Homo sapiens: one gene and its partners. The protein of the gene in region 2 purifies or fractionates together with the protein of the main gene of each other region. This does not show direct contact. Each region holds a gene or a part of one and is shown on either strand. Other genes may lie near its edges.

What was found.
Region 1: the proteins of TMEM171 (region 2) and TPCN1 purify together in Homo sapiens (affinity purification with mass spectrometry; 4 studies listed by BioGRID and IntAct, with this or other methods). This does not show direct contact.
Region 3: the proteins of TMEM171 (region 2) and CHAMP1 purify together in Homo sapiens (affinity purification with mass spectrometry; 3 studies listed by BioGRID and IntAct, with this or other methods). This does not show direct contact.

What each region holds. Positions count from the first base shown.
Region 1 is NC_000012.12:113,287,462-113,294,493, forward strand, and holds part of TPCN1 (two pore channel protein 1), read left to right. Parts: intron 1-701; coding exon 702-773; exon of another isoform or gene 774-1,033; coding exon of another isoform or gene 1,034-1,037; exon of another isoform or gene 1,038-1,065; intron 1,066-1,135; exon of another isoform or gene 1,136-1,198; intron 1,199-1,296; coding exon 1,297-1,386; intron 1,387-2,666; coding exon 2,667-2,782; intron 2,783-3,490; coding exon 3,491-3,537; intron 3,538-4,061; exon of another isoform or gene 4,062-4,147; coding exon 4,148-4,216; intron 4,217-4,412; coding exon 4,413-4,497; intron 4,498-5,472; coding exon 5,473-5,612; intron 5,613-5,807; coding exon 5,808-5,888; intron 5,889-7,032. UniProt on the Homo sapiens protein: Intracellular channel initially characterized as a non-selective Ca(2+)-permeable channel activated by NAADP (nicotinic acid adenine dinucleotide phosphate), it is also a voltage-gated highly-selective Na(+) channel activated directly by PI(3,5)P2 (phosphatidylinositol 3,5-bisphosphate) that senses pH changes and confers electrical excitability to organelles.
Region 2 is NC_000005.10:73,115,752-73,123,582, reverse strand, and holds the start of TMEM171 (transmembrane protein 171), read right to left. Parts: upstream 3,009-7,831; 5' UTR 2,887-3,008; intron 278-2,886; 5' UTR 210-277; coding exon 1-209. Other genes in the region: uncharacterized protein LOC124901001, read left to right, coding at 3,154-3,855.
Region 3 is NC_000013.11:114,324,501-114,327,852, reverse strand, and holds the end of CHAMP1 (chromosome alignment-maintaining phosphoprotein 1), read right to left. Parts: coding exon 1,572-3,352; 3' UTR 531-1,571; downstream 1-530. UniProt on the Homo sapiens protein: Required for proper alignment of chromosomes at metaphase and their accurate segregation during mitosis. Involved in the maintenance of spindle microtubules attachment to the kinetochore during sister chromatid biorientation.

The sequences.
Region 1 (7,032 bases), on a different chromosome or scaffold from region 2:
AGCGTCTTATGGAGAAAAACCCTCGTGTGGGTCCCACTGGTTTCCCAGGGACACTGGAGAAAGTCCCAGACGAGCCTGCCCCACTGACGGTGTCTCTTCCTAATGAGGGGTCCCGAGGTCCTGTGCCCTCAGAGCCTGGGCTTGCCTCCTGACCCTCCAGCTGCAACCCCATCCACGTCCGCCCCATCCTCTCCCAAGGCGGGACAGGCGGGGCAGGTGCGGGGAGGGGTGGTGGCGTCTATGGAGGAAAAGCCTACCCCCTTGGCGTGTGGGGGTGGCCTGGGGCTGCTCCTGAGTGTCCGCCTCCGTCCCGCCCCCTGCCACCCTTCTTCACTGGTGAGCTCCATTGCCCCCGCTCCCCGGGGCACATGGGCTTCTCCCCGCTCTTTCCCAGGAGCAAGGCCTTGCTCCTGTCTGAGCCTGCAGCTCTACTGCAAGGAGATGTGGCCTGGCCCTGCTCCTCTTCGTGGAAGGACCCCGCCCAGCCGGTGTCCTGGGGCTGCCACCATCCCTTCCCTCATGCATGAATCACCTGAGCCCAGCTCAGGGTTGGTGGCGCCCAAGGGAGTGGACGCAGGTGGAGGAGAGGCCCTCACCTGTCTTCACCGCATGGCGTGTGGAAGGCGGGGCCGGCATGTTCTGAGGGCGGGGGCTGAGGCGTGCACCTGTGTGTGGAGGTGACGGGTGTCCTCCTCGCTCAGGTTGTTTAAGTTGAAGGAGCGCTACCGCAACGTGCTGGACACCATGTTCGAGCTGCTGCCCCGGATGGCCAGGTACTGCCAGCCCCCACCCTGGCCTGCAGGTCCAGGTGCCGTGTGGCAGTGCCCCGTGGGGGCGGGAGCCGAGTGGCAGTCGGGGGAAAGGAGTTCCACAAAGGACTGCAATCGAGGGCCTGACGGGGCTCCAAGGAGCCTGGAATCTTGACCACCACAGGTCTCCTGGGCACCATTTTTCTCCACTGACCTGTCTGACATATTTAGTAGGGAGGGCAGGGAGCTGTCAACTCGCTTACCACCTGTGTCTACATTCACAGGTAAGGGGTCACCTGTGAGTCTACCTTCACAGGTAAGGGGTGAATCTCTGGGAAAGGGGCATTTGTTCATAGCGTCCTGACTTGAGCTGTTTTTCACCCCAGAGCTGCCCCACGAGGCCCCTTCCCCGCAGGCACTTTCCAGTTGGTGAACCGACCAGGGGCATGGCCCTGCAGTCAGCCCCACGGGTCCGAGGAGGCCGGGGCTGCAGAGGAGCCGTTCCCTCCTGCCGGCCCCGCGTCACCCTGCCCCTGTCGCCCCACAGCCTGGGCCTCACCCTGCTCATCTTTTACTACTCCTTCGCCATCGTGGGCATGGAGTTCTTCTGCGGGATCGTCTTCCCCAACTGCTGCAAGTGAGTAGGCCCCACCCAGCCCCAGGCAGCCTGCATTTCCCGGGCAGAGGGCTGGCCAGGGCCAGGATTGGTGTCCTTGTGGCCTTGGGGTCCTCGGGGATGTTCCTGTCTAAGCAACCACCTTGCTTTGCTTTCAGGGCTTAGTTGAGTGCAGTGAGCTAAATGAGGGGCCTGGACTCGGGGTCCCTGTTTCTCCATCCCCCAGGCAGGGTTGGGAGCTGTCAGCTCACCCTCTGCCGAGGGCTGGAGGCCACCCCCACAGTAGCCTGGGTCCCAAGGTCAAGTCCCATGGCTTCCTCCCACTTCTCTCCTGGAGTGGCTGGGGACCTGGGCCAAGACCAGTCTTCTAGGGACAGCATCGTAGGATAAGACAGACGGACACGTGCAGGAAGGTCATGGTGCTCAGGGATGGGGAGCAGAGAGTGAAATCTCCCATGAGCACTCCCTTTCTCCTGAGCCGCCACAGTGAAATCACTGCACACTGCCATTCATTCATCCTCAATTCAGAGAGTCCTCTTACATTTGGTCTTTACAGCCTCAAGCACCGATGAAGAAACAGTTTTACAAAGACACTGGTAGCTTTGAGACCCAGTTTGAGTGTCAAGCTTGGTCTGGAACCAGAAGCCTATAGCAGTGGGTCCCAGACTTTAGAGCCCATTGCAGTCACCAGGGAGCTTAGTGCAAGCTCCAGACCTCACTCTTGTGTCTGATGCATGCGTGTGGGAGGAGGCTCCCTGGTGGCCCAAGCACTAGACTTTTATAAACATTAGCATGGATATTAACAGAACAGCCATAAAAGATTGGAAGGAAAGTGGCAAATAAGAGCTCCTCAAAACAGGGCCAACCTTTTCAAATACTTGCTCAGGCCAAGTATTGGGGAAGCCCCAGTAGGGAATTCCTTCCCTGGGACTGTGGCCTAGTGTCCAGCCTCAAGAGCAGATCCTAGATGGGGCAGGTGCAGAGGAGGCCCTTGCCTCTCCTCCCTCCCCTGCAAGCAACGGTGAGAGAGAAGGCCCTGCCTGCAGCAGACAACTTCCAGGTGACAGAGGTGGGTCAGGCTGGCCAGGGGATCCCGCCAAGCCCAGCAGGCAGGAATAGCCAAGGGCATTCCTTCAGCAGGGACCCAGGCATGAGGTGGAGAGGGTTAGGCAGGAAACCAGGCTGCGGGCAGAACAGAAGGATCCTTGGCCAGAACTCGGTTTGTTTCAGACTTCTGTCCTCTCTGGAGGTGACTGATCGCCTTGTGACCCTCCCTCCTTTCTCCCTTGTGCTCCGGCCAGCACGAGTACAGTGGCAGATGCCTACCGCTGGCGCAACCACACCGTGGGCAACAGGACCGTGGTGGAGGAAGGCTACTATTATCTCAATAATTTTGACAACATCCTCAACAGCTTTGGTGAGTGGGAAAAATCACAGGGGGCACATTCCCTGGGGACCCCACCCTTGTCACCCTTGTCACCACGGGTCCCAGAGGTGGTGTAGCAAGTGTCTGGGCCACACTTTCTGGAAGCCTCCCTGGCCCAGGTGGAGGACTTGGTCTGCCCAGCTTTGGCAGTACAGTCCAGGCTGGATCCTGGAGCTCACTCAGTTGCCTGATTCCACTCTTTCCTGATATTTTCTCAGTACCGGGGAGGACAAGAGTTGCAAGCCTTAGCTGGGCGGGGTCCCCTCATCACAGTGCCACTTGCAGAATGGGACCCAGCCACACCACTGCTGCTGCAGCTGCACTGCCCCCTGGCTCAGACTGCACACAGCCCTCTGCCCACTCCCATGAAGAGGCGAACACAGCCAAACCGCCTCTCCAGAAAAAGGGTGTGCCCCCATGACACCCCAGATCTGCACCCAGTAAGATCCAGATAGTCTGATGTGGCACAGGCTGCTGAGGCAGAGGGTGTGTTCTCTTGGGGGCAGGCCATGATGTCCTGTGGAGCCAGCGCCCTAGGAGTGCCTTGCCTGGTCTTTCCTGGAGCTCACAACCCAAGCGGTCATATGGTGACCCTCTCATCTTAGCACATGGCACCCAGGATAGGTGGCAAGAGGCCACTTGAAATTGACTTTGAAGTGGGGTCTCATCAGGATGCTTCTTTCTCTCTTCCCTCGGCAGTGACCCTGTTTGAGCTCACAGTTGTCAACAACTGGTACATCATCATGGTAAGAGCTCGGGCAGCTCTGGGGGTATCTTCCCGCCAGCCCTGGGGTCGGCCCTGGGTCTCCCCCAACCCAGAGTATATAATTCTTCCCGTAGCTTGCAGGGCTGGGGGTCTTGAGTCATGCTGTGTTGGTGTTCAGTGGGGAGGCCACAGGATGGCTGGGCCCCAGGAGCCACCCCTCCCAGTGTTGGCTGGACTCGGCTGTTACTCCCATCTCCCTGCATGTCCCCAGCAGCCAGGAGATGCCACTTAGACTCTGGGTCTCTGTCCTGTCTCGCCCACTGTAGAGATGACTTTTCCCTCTAGTGACAAAGTGGCGAGCATTGCTGATCTCTTTATTCCATTCCTTAAACTTTCCCGACTCCCAGCCCTACTGGGATAAAGGCTGCCCTGGTTCTGGATCCAGTCGTCCAGGGGAGTGGCCAGGGCTCCTTCAGCAGTCAGGAATTAGTGTTAGGCCCAGAGGGGCAAGCTTCCTCTCCTCCATCTCTCACAACCAGCCACAAATCACGGTGGGGTCTGCGAAGAGCCGGGGCCATGGAGCAGCCTGTGTAGACGGGGACCTGCCCTGCATGGGCACCCCCTCACTGGCTGCTTCCCTTGGTCTCCAGGAAGGCGTCACCTCTCAGACCTCCCACTGGAGCCGCCTCTACTTCATGACCTTTTACATTGTGACCATGGTAGGTCCCGGACCACAGAACGCTCTTTGTCCTTCGTCTTCCACATCACCAGCTGCCCCTGCTCTTCAGCCTGCAGCGTCAGGGAGTGGGGCTGGGTCCCATCTGGCCGGACTCTGTTGGGCGTGGGCTGCGCAGCCACGGACACCTACCCACCCTCCTCCCCTGCCTCTGCCCCTCCCTCCCTATCCCTGGCCAGGTGGTGATGACGATCATTGTCGCCTTTATCCTCGAGGCCTTCGTCTTCCGAATGAACTACAGCCGCAAGAACCAGGACTCGGAAGGTCTGTGCAGGGATGATGCCTTGGGCATTTGATATCTGCCGCCTACCCAGCTCTGTCTGTCTGTCTGGGTGGCTGTCCAGCCAGCCATCAGGCTGTCATTTTTCTGCTGTCTGGCTGTCCAGCTTATCTATCTGGCTTGTCTTTCTAGATCTTGTATTTGCATTGATTTTCAAATATTTAATGTCAGAAAACGTAATCTAACTTTAAAATAAGACAGAGCATGTCATAGTTGGAGAAAAATCAAGAAGTAGAGAAAGGCTTATGTGGCAGCAGCAGCCCCTGCCCTGCCTTTCCCTCCCGTCCTCCAGAGGCTTCTCCTTCTTGGCTATTTCTTCTGTTAGTCATCTCCACGTTTCTCAATAATAGGTTCACACTACGGTTCTTGATTTAAATGGTGTAAATATTGCTTATGGCACAGGCGAATCGTATTCCTGCTGCAACTGGATGGTGCTGGCTTTAGTGACTGCCTCACTCTTCCCAGATTGCACAGCTTTCTGTGTGCTGACCCTCCCTTCTTCCCAAATTCTCCATCAAAACTGTCTGCACTTGATCTCTTGAGCCCAGGAGGTCAAGACTGCAGTGAGCCATGATCACACCACTGCACTCCAGCCTGGGCAGCGGAGTGAGACCCTGTCTCTTAAAAGAAACAGAAAACCCTGTGCCCACACTTGTTACCTCTCATCCTCAGATCTCTGTGCTATCAGACCATCTGACCATTTTCTCTGTGCTTAGAGGCCCCTTCCTGAAACCCTCTGGCCCTGTAACAGCTGCCAGCTAGACCTGCGCTCCTGACATCACAGCAGAGGGAGGGGAAGGGAAAGGAGGGCCAACGAGGAGAGCAGGACACCAATGCAGTGTCGGTTTAGAGAGAGAACCTTAAGACCCCCTGCGGAAGGGGGCAAGGAGGTACGAGACCCAGCCAGGTTGGCAGCTGCAGCCCCGGGCCCTTCCCACACCTGCCTTCCATCCCTGCAGTTGATGGTGGCATCACCCTTGAGAAGGAAATCTCCAAAGAAGAGCTGGTTGCCGTCCTGGAGCTCTACCGGGAGGCACGGGGGGCCTCCTCGGATGTCACCAGGCTGCTGGAGACCCTCTCCCAGATGGAGAGATACCAGGTGAGGAGCCCAGGCCCTGGTCCGAAGGAGGGAGGCAGGTTTCAGTGTGGGTGGCATAATCCCTTCCCTCAGATATTGGTAACATTTTGAGTGACACAGTTGCAAAAGCCAGAGAAGTGGGAGACGCCAACTGTGGCACCAGGGGTGGGACCTGAATATCTGCAGCCGAGCCCTGCAGCCTCTGCTCTTCCTTAGCAACATTCCATGGTGTTTCTGGGACGGCGATCAAGGACCAAGAGCGACCTGAGCCTGAAGATGTACCAGGAGGAGATCCAGGTAGGAGCCTGGCCGACCACGCTGCGAATCCTCCCCCAAGCTATGTCCTGGGAGGGGCAGGGAGCTGCTCTCTGGCCCTCTGAGTAGAGGGAGAAGGCTGGTAGAGAGATGCAGACCGTCCATCGGGACCACTGCTGGGGTTGTGTGGGACCTGAGCGGGGCTCACTTAGCCTTGAACCCTTGACTCGTGCCCAGCAGAGGCAGCTCTCCAGCCTGCCTGCCGCCATATGTCCCTGCCCCTTATGAATTCTCCAGAACCTCCTCTCCATCTCTTACTCTGAGTCAGCTGCAAACTCAAACATGTGTACTAAGAAACACAGTGAGCAAAGAGGAAAGAGCGGCGACCGTGGTGAACTGGCAAGGATGTCCCTGTCCAAAGGAGACAGTCTCCTCCCAGCTCCAGGATGTGCCTGTCCAAAGGGGACACAGCCTCCTCCCAGCCCCAGCGAGTGCTGCCCAATAGGAAGAAGGCCCTACTGCGGTCGGGCTGCTTGGTGTTTTGTTTTGAGATGGAGTCTCGCTCTGTCTCCCAGGCTGGAGTGCAGCAGCACGATCTAGGCTCACTGCAACCTCCGCCTCCTGGGTTCAAGCGATTCTCCTGCCTCAGCCTCCCGAGTAGCTGGGATTACAGGCACACGCCACCACACCTGGCTAATTTTTGTATATTTAGTGGAGACGGGGTTTCACCATGTTGGCCAGGCTGGGAGTGCTTGGGATTTTTCATAATTGGGTGTTTTTTGTTTTGTTTTGTTTTAGAGATGGTATCGCTCTGTCACCTGGGCTGGAGTCCAGTGGCGTGATCATAGCTCACTGTAGCCTCCAACCCCTGGGCTCAAGTGATCCTCCCCACTCAGCCTACCCAAGCAGCTGGAACTACAGGTGTGCACTGTGACACCCTAATTACCTTATTTTTGTAGCAGTGAGGTCTTGCTGGGGTCTCAAACTCCTGGTCTCAAGCAATTCTTCCACCTTGGCTTCTAATTTAAGAAAAGGCAGGCCAGGCATGGTGGCTCATGCCTGTAATCCCAGCACTTTGGGAGGCCAAGGCAGGCGGATCACTTGATGCCAGGAGCTCGAGACCAGCCTGGCCAACATGGTGAAACCCTGTCTCTACTAAAATTACAAAATTTAGCCAGGCCTGGTT
Region 2 (7,831 bases):
CCAACCACGGCACATGCAGGCCCCGCCACCTTGAGCACCATGGGGCAGTCTGGGAGGGGCTTATATTGGCATGCCTGGAACCCAAAGATGGAGAGCAGGACTCCCACACACAACAAGACGGCGCCGAAGACAAAGAAGCAGAAGATGAGTTTGCTGACGTGTCTGTCCTGCTGGTCCCCATCTGGCTCAGCAGCAGCTGCAGGAGACATGTCCAGGAGAGGCCCCTTCCCGGAGGCAGGGTGGGATGTGTTTTCTTCCCTCCAAGATTTCAGCAGCTCTGCAAACACAACCAAACACCAAATTAACGTGGGCACAGGTGTTCCAGAACCACCCTGGTTTTTTGCTGATCATTTCTGAAATCACACCACAATGAGGCCTTGGGGGTAGAACTTTATACAACTGATAAGCTGTAGAACAATGAGTTGGTTTATGAGTCAGATAAACTAGCATTCAGAAACTCCTAAATATGTAATTTTACAAGATATTCAAAACAGGAAATTAAATTACTACACATCTAAGGGTATCTTTTTTAAAAACTGAAAGAACAAAAGTAGCTGGGTGTGGCATTTCCTTTTCTGAGTCTTACAAACTCATTTCCCTGGGGAAAAAAGCACTGGTGAATGAGGGAAGAACCACAGGGATTCTTTCTGATTGCAAATGCCCCACTTTTCATCATAGCTGCTCTCAGCATTTTCAAGTCAGTTCAGTAACTAACTTTCCATTTCCTGTTTTAGACTACAGCAGCTTTCCATTTCATGTTTTATTCTAAGGCTACATCTACAAAAGACCCAATTTCAGCAATTTCAATAGAATAAGAAGTCTGTTCAGGAACACAGTGGGTTTGGTGGACTTTTAAGTTGATTCTATCAAAATGTGGTTCTTGAGGCCAGGCGTGGTGGCTTGCGCCTGTAATCCCAGCACTTTGGGAGGCAGAGGCAGGCAGATTGCTTGAGCTCAGGAGTTCGAGACCAGCCTGGGTGACATAGCAAAACCCCATCTCTGCTAAAAATACAAACTTTAGCCAGGCATGGTGCCTGTGGTCCCAGCTACTTGGTAGGCTGAGGTGGGAGGATTGCTTGAGCCCAGGAGCTGGAGGTTGCAGTGAGCCAAGATCACGCCACTACTCTCCAGCCTGGGCAACAGAGTGAGACCCTGCCAAAAACAAAACAAAACAAAACAAAATGGTTCTTGGGTTCTCAACAAGCACAGACTGGTGACCCAGTTGCTTGGATCTGGGATGACCCTGGAAAGTGTTGCACAGCAGGTCAACAGGAGCTCAATTTTCAGAGTGGACAGGTACCCAAAGGCTGGTGTGGCCTCTCACTCACCCTCCTCCATGGTGTCACCTACTTCCACAAAGAGGTTGAGACTCAGTTAAAAAACAAGCAGCCAATAAAACTGCTAGTTATAAAGCACAAAATGGGTGGAAGGGGGGAACTTGGCTTTGAAAGAATAGTATAAGTGGAATCAAGTGAGAAAGCACCTTCCAGAAAATCACCCAAGCCCTGTACTTCAGGGGTATAATATATTAAATATGCCAAGTGGTTGTTAAAGAGTTGTCTAGCTTACACAGAGCTGACCTAATTATCTCGTTATCTTATTTTACTCCAATGAATGGGATATTTTACCAGGACCCCGTAAGTCAGGTCCTGCAATTGCAAAGACAATCCAAAATCGTGAAGACTATTTTCACCTGCCCAAGGAAAGAAAACTTTTAAAATATTTTGTGCCGCTCACATCCATGGTCCCATGAAGGAACTCAAGACTGAGGCCCTAAGCCCAAGATGATCTTGACAAACCAAAATCACACTGAGGGAAGGTCAGTTTAGGTAAAGAAAGCAAACAGGCAATCTTACACTGGGAAAAACTTTTCCAGGAAAAAGTATGATAGAATCAGAAGGAAGTTGGAGAAAAAAAGGAAATATAGGAGGGAAAAAAGCTTTCATTTCAAACTTGGAAAAACTTGATATACAGATGCAGTTAAGCTGAGACAAAGCATTGCACTAATTTTTTAATCTTCCCATTTTTTATTAAGTCAGTAACATCCTGCAGTGAATAAGAATTTCATATTGAGTATACAGTAGTCCTCATTTATCCTACAGGGAGTACATTCCAAAACTCTCAGTGGAATGAAACGATGGAGAGTCCTGAAACCTATATATATTGGTTTTTTGTTATTGTTGTTGTTTTAATTTTTTTCCTGAATCATGCAATCTCTTTTGCGGTTTCGGAGACAAGAAAGAGAAGGGTGATTCTCGGCTGCAAAGTCCTATCAGGAATTCATTTATTCCCAGTATAGTCAACTTTGCAGTGAGTCACAAGGCTTCAACTGTCTTAAGGCAAATTCCCAAACACCAGTAAATAGAAGCCCAAAACTGAATCTGTAGTTTCTTGTCCGTGGACTAGTGGACGGAGCACCTGGCTGAGTGTTCACCTCTGATCCATAATAGTGTGGAAATACTCTCTCTCTCTCCTTCTCCCACAGATGCACTCACAAACGGATACAAAGACACCCACATTCACTCGCAATGAAACCTTTTCCAAACACCACCCTACACTTAAACTCCCCAAAGCCAAACTCCCCTCTCCAACACTCCTATTGGTTTTCCAAAAGACATTTCCAAAATTCACAGCACCTCTCCACGTCCAAAGCTATGGTGCGTTTGGGGAACGAAACGAGAGGCAAATGCCTTCTGTGCGAAATCGGTTTGCGGCTTTTAGGGAGCCCGAGCGCAAGCAACAGCCGGAGGGGCTCGCAGGGACGCAGGTTGGGCTCGGATACCCAGCGCCTCCGCGCTGCCGCGGCTCCCCGCGCCCAGCCTGGCCGCACAGCTCAGCGCCCGACCCGCCGCCGCCGGCGCAGGCGCGCGGGCCGGGGCAGCTTACCTGAAGCTGGGTCCGGCGCCTGGCTGACCGCGCTGCTGTGGGCACTGGCTGGGCGCGGCGTCCGCCTCCGCACGCGGCCTCGGCTGCGCCGGCCGCCCTGCACCCTACCCACCGCGCGTCCTGGTGCGGAGGGCGGACCCGGCAGTATTTAGAGAAGGAGGCGGTGCTGCGCGGGCGCGGCGGCCCGGGGAGGGCAGGGCAGGGCAGTGCAGGAGCGACCGGTGGGAGCTGGCCGCCACTGGGGGCCCGGGGCGCGCCCGCGAGGGAATGGAGAGCCAGGGGCGGCTTCGGAACCCAGGGCTGGCGGGTTTGGCAGCCTCCGCGCTCGTGGCCGTGCGCGCGAGGAATCTGGGAGAAATGGGCACCTTCCACGGCTGCCTGGCCCGCACACCTGGCGGGGCCGGCGAGTTGAGATGCCCCCGCCGGCTGGCGGAACTGTGCGCCCCGCCCGCCGAGGCCCGCTCCCCCTCGAGGCCTGAGGCCCAGTTCTATAGGGGCGCGAGAGAGCGGCGGCGTGGGGGGCGCGGAGGAAGCGCCGGCCCCCGCCTCCACCGCCTCCTTCGTGGTTGCGGCCCAGGCCGAACAGGGTACCGTGCCCCGGCCGCCTTGGCCTTGGCCACCGCGAGGTCCGGGGCGACTACACCCAGCAGCCCTGTGGCCCTCCTACTGCTCTGGAGACCTGGAGTGGGGTTACAGAGGGAAGCGACTCGCTGCGAGCTCCCCATCGAATATGGAGCCACCAGGTCACGGGACGACGTGCGCTCTACAGAATGTGAGACAAGGGCCCTCCACACCCAGCCATTCAGGCCTGAGGTCCTGGCTCCGAGACTGAGGCCGAGACGCGGCAAGCCCCGCGCCGGACCAGCTCTGCCCCTCCCGCACCCACGTGTCTGCGCACAGCCCTCCTTTGCGATAGAACCCCCTTCCTGGTTCTCCACCACTAATGATCTGCCGGAATTAAACTGGTAACTTTCCCTGCCCTTGAACCGGGAGTTTCGGGATGAGTTTGCCAATCCCTGTGCTATTTGTAACCAGCCCCGTGACACGTGATACGGATCCAACTGTGCTAGTTTCCACACCAGGGGTCAGGGCACGGTGGAAGGTGAGTCAAGGGTTCTCTGCCCAAGCGCAGAGGTGCCCTGAGCCACGGGGACTTCCCAGCCCTGCCTTCTCTTCTCAGCTTCCTGTCTGCCTTGCCTGAAACCCTATCTAGAGTTAAGGCCAATGGATGAAACTTTTCAATGTGCAAGCAAGCACTTTACCTACCTGATACAACAAGAGATTCCTGGTCATGCTCACTGAAGGTAAAGTATGAAGCAGGCTTAGCTAATCATCAGAGGTGAGAAGAGACTTAAAGAACCAGTCAGAGAGGTAAAGAGGGGAGGGGGTTACCTGGGCTTTAGGGTTCACCAGGGAGGCAGAACGGACAAGTTCTTGCCATTGGAATTTGGTGGGGCACTTGCCTGGGTGGCCAAAGGTGGACTTTTTCATAGCCAGGGTGCCCGACCTCTGTAAATCCCCGCCATAACTAACAGCCCTGATTACTGTCGAAATGAACAATGCCAACACTCACGACCCCTTGCTTTGTGGTTCTTTGCTACATCTCTCCAGCAGTTCAGAAAAGGTTGGAGGCAGCAGGGGACAGGAGACTGAGAAAAACAGTCATTTGTCAGTTGAGGAAACTGAGGTCCAGGCTGACAGAGGTAAAGTAACCTCTGCAGCTGGTTGACATGCAGAGAAGGCCTGAGCCAGATGCAGATGCGCTGACCATTCAGTGTTTCTCCCGCAGCACACCTGTCACTCAGAGAACACACCATGCTGTGAACCCAGAAAACGCCCTCATGGCCTTGTGATGCCAAGCACGTTTAGATTATTATAACAATACAGGCACTGTGTCCCAAGGACATTGCAGTAATCTATGTTTGGGGTGGAGATATCCTTCCTGGTCCAAGTGTCAAGGTATACCACCTTCTGGAAGGGCACCAAAGCATGTCCAGCGAATGGGCAGATACCCAAGAGTGGATTGTACAACAGCAGGCACTGGCTTTCTAAGAACTCAGGCCCTCATTATAGGATTTGTCCCCTCTGACACAGGCCTGTGAACAACTCTTCATTGTGCAAAAGGGTTTCCTTGTCCTTTCCCTACTCATTCTTCCCTTCCCCCTTATTTGAAACTGAATCTCTGGCCATGTCATGTGCAGGCCTGCAAGGGGCCTGTTGATACAGCTGCCCCTCTGGTGCCACATGACTGCAGGCTCACCACCCATGACAGACTTGAATATCCTGGCACCAAGGACAATCAGATTAGCCTCCACTTGGTATATCTGCTGTTCTCACTGTTTGTGTCTATGAGAGCCTGTTTGACTAAATTAAACTCCTTGGAAATTGATCATCGATTATGTATGAAAGACATACCCACCAGCCTTTGAGGTACTTATCTTTGTAGCCCACCTAGCCTTAGGAGAGAAGCTGCGTGGCCTGGTCACTATCTAGTGGTCTTCCCTGGCCTGTGTGGTAGTGAAAAAGATAAAAGCCAGACCGAATCCTTAGAAAAACAGCATCAGAACAAGATTAAAAACCTCGAATTCAGTGACTGTAGAAGCATAAAGCAGAGGCATGTGTTCATGTATTTAGCCAGCACAGATTTACCAACTACCAATAAAACACGGAACTTGTATTTTATTGAGGAGAAAGGCAATAAAATATGTAAGTTATACAGAGAATTAGAAAGTGATTGAGTGCCAGGGAGAACAATAAATCACAGATGGGGACTGGGGAGCACCCCATTTTAAATAGGGGAGTTAAGGAAGGCATCTCTGAGAAGGTGAGATTGCAGCAAAAACTTGAAGGGAATGAGGAAGCAAGTGTATCAATGATCTATTATTGCATAACAACTTACCCCAAAACTTTGAAGTTTGAAACAGCAAAAATGTATTCTCAGGGTTTCTGATCAGGGTCAGAAACTGCAAGTGGCTTAGCTGGGTACTTCTGGCTGAGCCTCTCAGAGGCTGCAGTCTAGCAGTTGGCCAGGGCTGTGGTCATCTGAAGGCTGGACTGGGGCTGGAGGATCTGCTGCCAAGGTGGCACATTCACAGGGCTATTGGCAGGAGGCCTCAGTTCCTCACTATGTGGATTTCTCCACCCAGCCTCCCCTCACGTGAGTGATCCAAGGGAGAGCAAACAAAGGGGAAGCTGTGGTGCCTTTTCTGACGAGGCTCTGCACTTCCATACCATCACTTCTCTTTATTCTGGTCCTTAGAATTGAGTCACAAAGTCAAGGGGAATGGGATTAGGTGCCACCTCTTGTAGGGAAGAGTAAGAATTTGTAAGCATAGTTCGTGATTTTTTGTGGGAAGTAGGGAAGAGTGCTTCAGGCAGAAGTAACCACAGGTGCAAAGGCCCTGAGGTAGGAACACACATATTAGCATATTCAAAGGAGAGCAAGAGGCCAGGGTGGCTGCAGTTGGTGAGCAAGGGGGAGAGTAGGAGAGGAGGTCAGAGAGGAAAGGCATGTGCAGGGCCAAGGGCACCAGGTTGTGCAGGGCCTTTAAGTAGGTGGGAAGCCTTTGAATGGTTTTTGAGCTGATGTGATGAGCTTTGACAGTGATGTGATCTGATTTCTTTTAAAAAAGAAATTGGTGGCTGTTGCAGTAAGAATAGCCCAAGGAGGAGCCAGGATGGATGGGAAGAGGCCAGTTAGGAGGCTGTGGTAACAACCCAGGAGTTATGTCTGTAGCTTGTGTATGAAGGTGATGAAAGGGATGAGACTTTGGATATATCTTGAAGATAGAGTCAATGGGATTTTCCATGAACCACATGTGGGTTTTGATTCCAAGGTTTTGGATCTGAGCAAGTGGAAGAATGGTTCTGGCATGAGCAAGATGGGGAATCCTAAGAGTGGGACAAGTTTGAGAGGAGGAGCTTCAGAGTCCATTTGGGGACATGTTAATTTTGTCCATTAGACATCCGAGTAGAGAAGCTGAGTAGGCAATTGAATATGGAGGCTTGGAGTTCAGGAATTCGGAAGGAATACTTTCCTGTGGTCTGTGAGTGACATTACAAAATTGAGGAGGCTGGGCTCCCTCTCTGGAAGAGTAACAATTAGTCCTTTGGAGGGTTCTAAACACACAAAGCAAGGGAGGGGCTGGTGCCAACCAAGTGCAGTTTTCAGATGTTTCTGGGGTGCAGAGCACAGCTAGTGCGGCTGGGAGGCATGAGTTTCACCCAGAGCAGGGGGCTTCTGCTGCTCTGTTCCCAAAACAGTGCCCTAAGGAACACATATCTTTCACTTCAACAAGACAGGCCACGTATTTCTTCCCAGGGCACTGCCAACCCTGAGAAGAAACTCAGGGCAAGTGGATTGACCTGCAGAATTCAGTGGCACCATTTTTCAGAATTCATAAGATGGCAGAAAGACAATCAGCTAATCAAGTCTGCCAACTTCTAGGTCTCTTTTCTCTTTTGGTCTCTTTCTAATTCTGCCCCAAATTAATCTTAGCACCCAGAAGCACACATTTCCCTGCTTCCAATTTCTGATGTTTTCTGAGCCCCAGCTGGGCTTGGTTTATAGGAATTTATTCTTGAGCGCTCAGTCTTGGGTCCATGTTTCAACACATATTTCCAGGACTCCCAATGACTCCTCTGAACCAACCTGGGCCCCATCCAGCTGTATAACCCTGAAAAGGGTGTACCAAAGTCCCTGGGATATTTTCCTCCTCCCTAACCCCCAGGTCGGACTTAGACCCAGGGGCTTCAGAGACATATCAGGAGTGCAAGTAGAGGCTGACTAATTTGGAAAGCTTGAATTAAGGGTTTAGACTGGCTCCCTTAGCTGATCCTAGTGCAAAGGCTAATCTTTTGCAGAGTCATTTTATGGCGTGAGATGGTGCTGTTGATTTTGCACAGTTAATAACAGCTCAGCCTGAGTGCTGCTAGCCTTAGCCAA
Region 3 (3,352 bases), on a different chromosome or scaffold from region 2:
CACCACGGCACAGCAACCTGGGTGACACAGCAAGGATCGGTCTCAAAATAAAAAACAAAAATAAAAAGAGAGAGATTTGAGTGTGGACACAGAGCCAAACCATATTACTAAATATTGTTAAGCTATCCCAACGGGCATATTAATAGGGAAGCCAGCGGGTGGGGAACTAGGACAAAACTGTTCCTTGTTAAAAAAATGTCTGGGAATAGCTAAAATAAACCCAGTACAGCATCTCAATCCTGGCTACACATCAGAATGCTTTGAGATTAAATGCCTCACACTGTTTAGAGGCAGGCAGGATAGGCAACCACTGGAATTAAAAAACCTTTCATATGAAAGGATGAGGTTTTTGACACAGAGTCCTCCCTATACACGCATTCCCCTAACTTACTTGACCACAGAACTTGGAGAAAACACAGCTAAGAAAATGCTGCTCCAGATAAGAAAACTATGTTGAAAACATGGAAATAATGGATCTGTATATCATACAATGAAAACTACACAAAAGAAAACACACATGAAGATGTTGCTGACATGAAAACCTTTCTTTTTAATTTGGTTGATACACATTTGACAAAATATTTTAGAATAAAATAATCCATGAACAGGTACAAGGTATTTACAGTAACATAATTGAAAAACATAAAATCGATATATTTCTTTAACAGAAATGTCTATAAAATTTTCTACTGTGAATCTGGAAGACTTTCAGTTCCTACTTATCAACCTGGTCTTAAGCCCCAACAGGCGACATGTAAGGCCCAGGAGTAGGATATACAAACTCTAACACATTTGGCAATTAAGAATCATCTATTAGTGTGAGCTGGCAGGCGGTGGGTGGGGGGTGGGGATGGGGAGGGAAGAACCAGATCTTAGGGTAAGATACAGAATGGAAGACTCCACTGAAAACAACTATGGACAAGAAAGATCTAAAATCACACTTATCTTTCACTTGTCTCCTGTGGGAGAAGGCTGCAAACTATTTTAAAGACTTAGTCAATTTTTCCCATTAGCAGAAAATCAGCAACCCTGAGACTCCAACATTTCATGACATAAAAGCTAATAAACATCTAGAAGCTGATTAAGATTTATAAACTAATTTTACATCAGATAGAAAATAACTCTTATGATTTAAAAATACATGTAAGGAAACAAAATTTCTCAAATTTATTTTTCATGCCTAATTCTTAAACATTTCAACTAATATTTTCTATTGTCTGAAATTAGTTCCACACACAGATACACTTTAACTGAATGCTTTGAGTACAACTTGCTCTTGATTATTAAATGGAATGCCTACTTCCTTGTATTATTATTCATACATATTTAAAAGAAATGAGAAGTTTAATCCATCTGGACTATACAGAAATTTATTGACTTACAAGATAGTCACATAGACAGAGACCAGAAAAAAATGATCAAATGCTCATTCTTAGTAACACAACTGAGACAGTGAAACACGGTACACCATACATGTCATCTACTGATCCAACTATGCTATCTGATAAGCTATACTTACAAAGAATGGTTCCAACAAACACCTTTGTAGAACAAATATTCACACTGTGTTATCAAATTTGCTGCTCCTCCAGTGGCGGTTCAAGAGCTTCCATTAGCTTTTTATTTGCCTCTTCATTATGCCGGCTTTGACAATGAGTTAAATGTTTCTTAAAACCTCTTGGGAAATTTGATTCAAAATTACAACGTGGACATTTAAGTAAACTTTGCCCATGGGCTGCTACATGATTTTTAAGGAGAGATTCCAAAAGAAAAGCCTTTCCACAGATTGTGCATTTGTAAGGGCTATGAACATTATGCTTATTAACCAAATGATGCAAAACAGCACCTTTTTTCATAGCACGACAGCAACAAATTTTGCAATAATACTTTCCTTTTCCACGCTTCATGTATTTTGCAATCTCCTCTTCAGAGATAAAAGCTTCTTTTTCTTCAGTAAACTGTAGCACATTTCTAGACTGCTCTGGACTAGTCATGTCCATTTTGTTCTCTTTGCTAAAATCAATGGATTCCACATCAACCTGCTCTTGATCACTGCTTGATTCCTGGCCCTTAATATCCATCGCATCCAAATCTGTTTTTATGTACTCACTACTACTAAGCTCAGCGTCTGAGCTCTCTTGGTTGTCTTTCTTGAGCTTCTTTGAGGAAGGAAATAAAGTATCTTCTAAGAGTTTCTTAGGTGAAGCTAGAAGTTCTTCCTGAACCAAAATATCACATTTTTGATCATCTATGGCATCTATTTGTAGTTCATCACCAAGCTCAACAGCCTTCTGTGATTCTGAGAATAGAGCAGATTTGGGGAGTTCAGGGAAAAGGGCATGCTTCCGGGGCTCTGGAAAAAGGGCACGTTTGCGTGCTTCTGGAGAAGCAGGAGGGGCTGTTTTGGCAGGCTCGGGAAACAGGGCAGGTTTTCTAGGCTCAGTATCGATAGAGAGAACAGGCTTCCAGATATCTGAGGCTGCTTTGGGGGACTCAGATGGCCCAGAAGGACCTGGTTTTCGGGTCTCAGGGAAGACAGGTTTCTGAGGCTCAATAAAAAAGGAAGACTTCCAGAGATCAGGAGAACCACCACGGGAACTTTTCTGGGACTCAGGGAAATCAAGTGAAGCAGGAGAAGTTTTCCGCTGATCAGGAGAAAGCTTCCAAAGATCTGGTGACCCTGAGGGTTTTCTGAGCTCTGGAGATCCTGCTGGACTACGGATCTCTGGGGATAGTGGTGGGCCGGGTTTGCGAAGCTCTGGAGACACTGGGGGAACTGCCTTCCAATGTTCAGGAGACAACGTGGGAGCTGTCTTTCGGAGTTCTGGTGGGCCAGACTTCCATGACTCAGGAGATGCAGGGGGAGACTTCCAGGAGCTGGGTGAGACTGATGAAGATTTCCAGGATGCAGAAGACACAGATGGAGTTGGTTTCCAAGGTCCAGGAGATACAGAAGGAATTGGTTTCCAAGGTCCAGGAGACACAGATGGAGCAGGTTTAGCTGGCTTCCAAGGTCCTGATGATGCTGAAGGATTGGATTTCCAAGGCCTAGGGGACCCAGGTGGCCCTGGTTTCCAAGAGCCTGGTGACACAGCGGGGGCTGGTCTCCTAGGCTCTGGGGAGACAGCAGGGAACGGCTTCCAAGGTTCAGGAGACTCTGAAGGGGATGGCTTCCTTGGCTCAGGGGAGGTAGTCCGGGCTGACTTCCGAGATTCTGGAGATGCAGCTGGGGATGGTCCCCAAGGTTCTGGGGAAGCAGCTAGAACTGGTGACTCTGGAGATGAGGCTGAAGGTGGCCCCAATGTTTCCGGGAAATGAGACTGCTTCTGGGGTTTGGGATTACTAAGAGTAG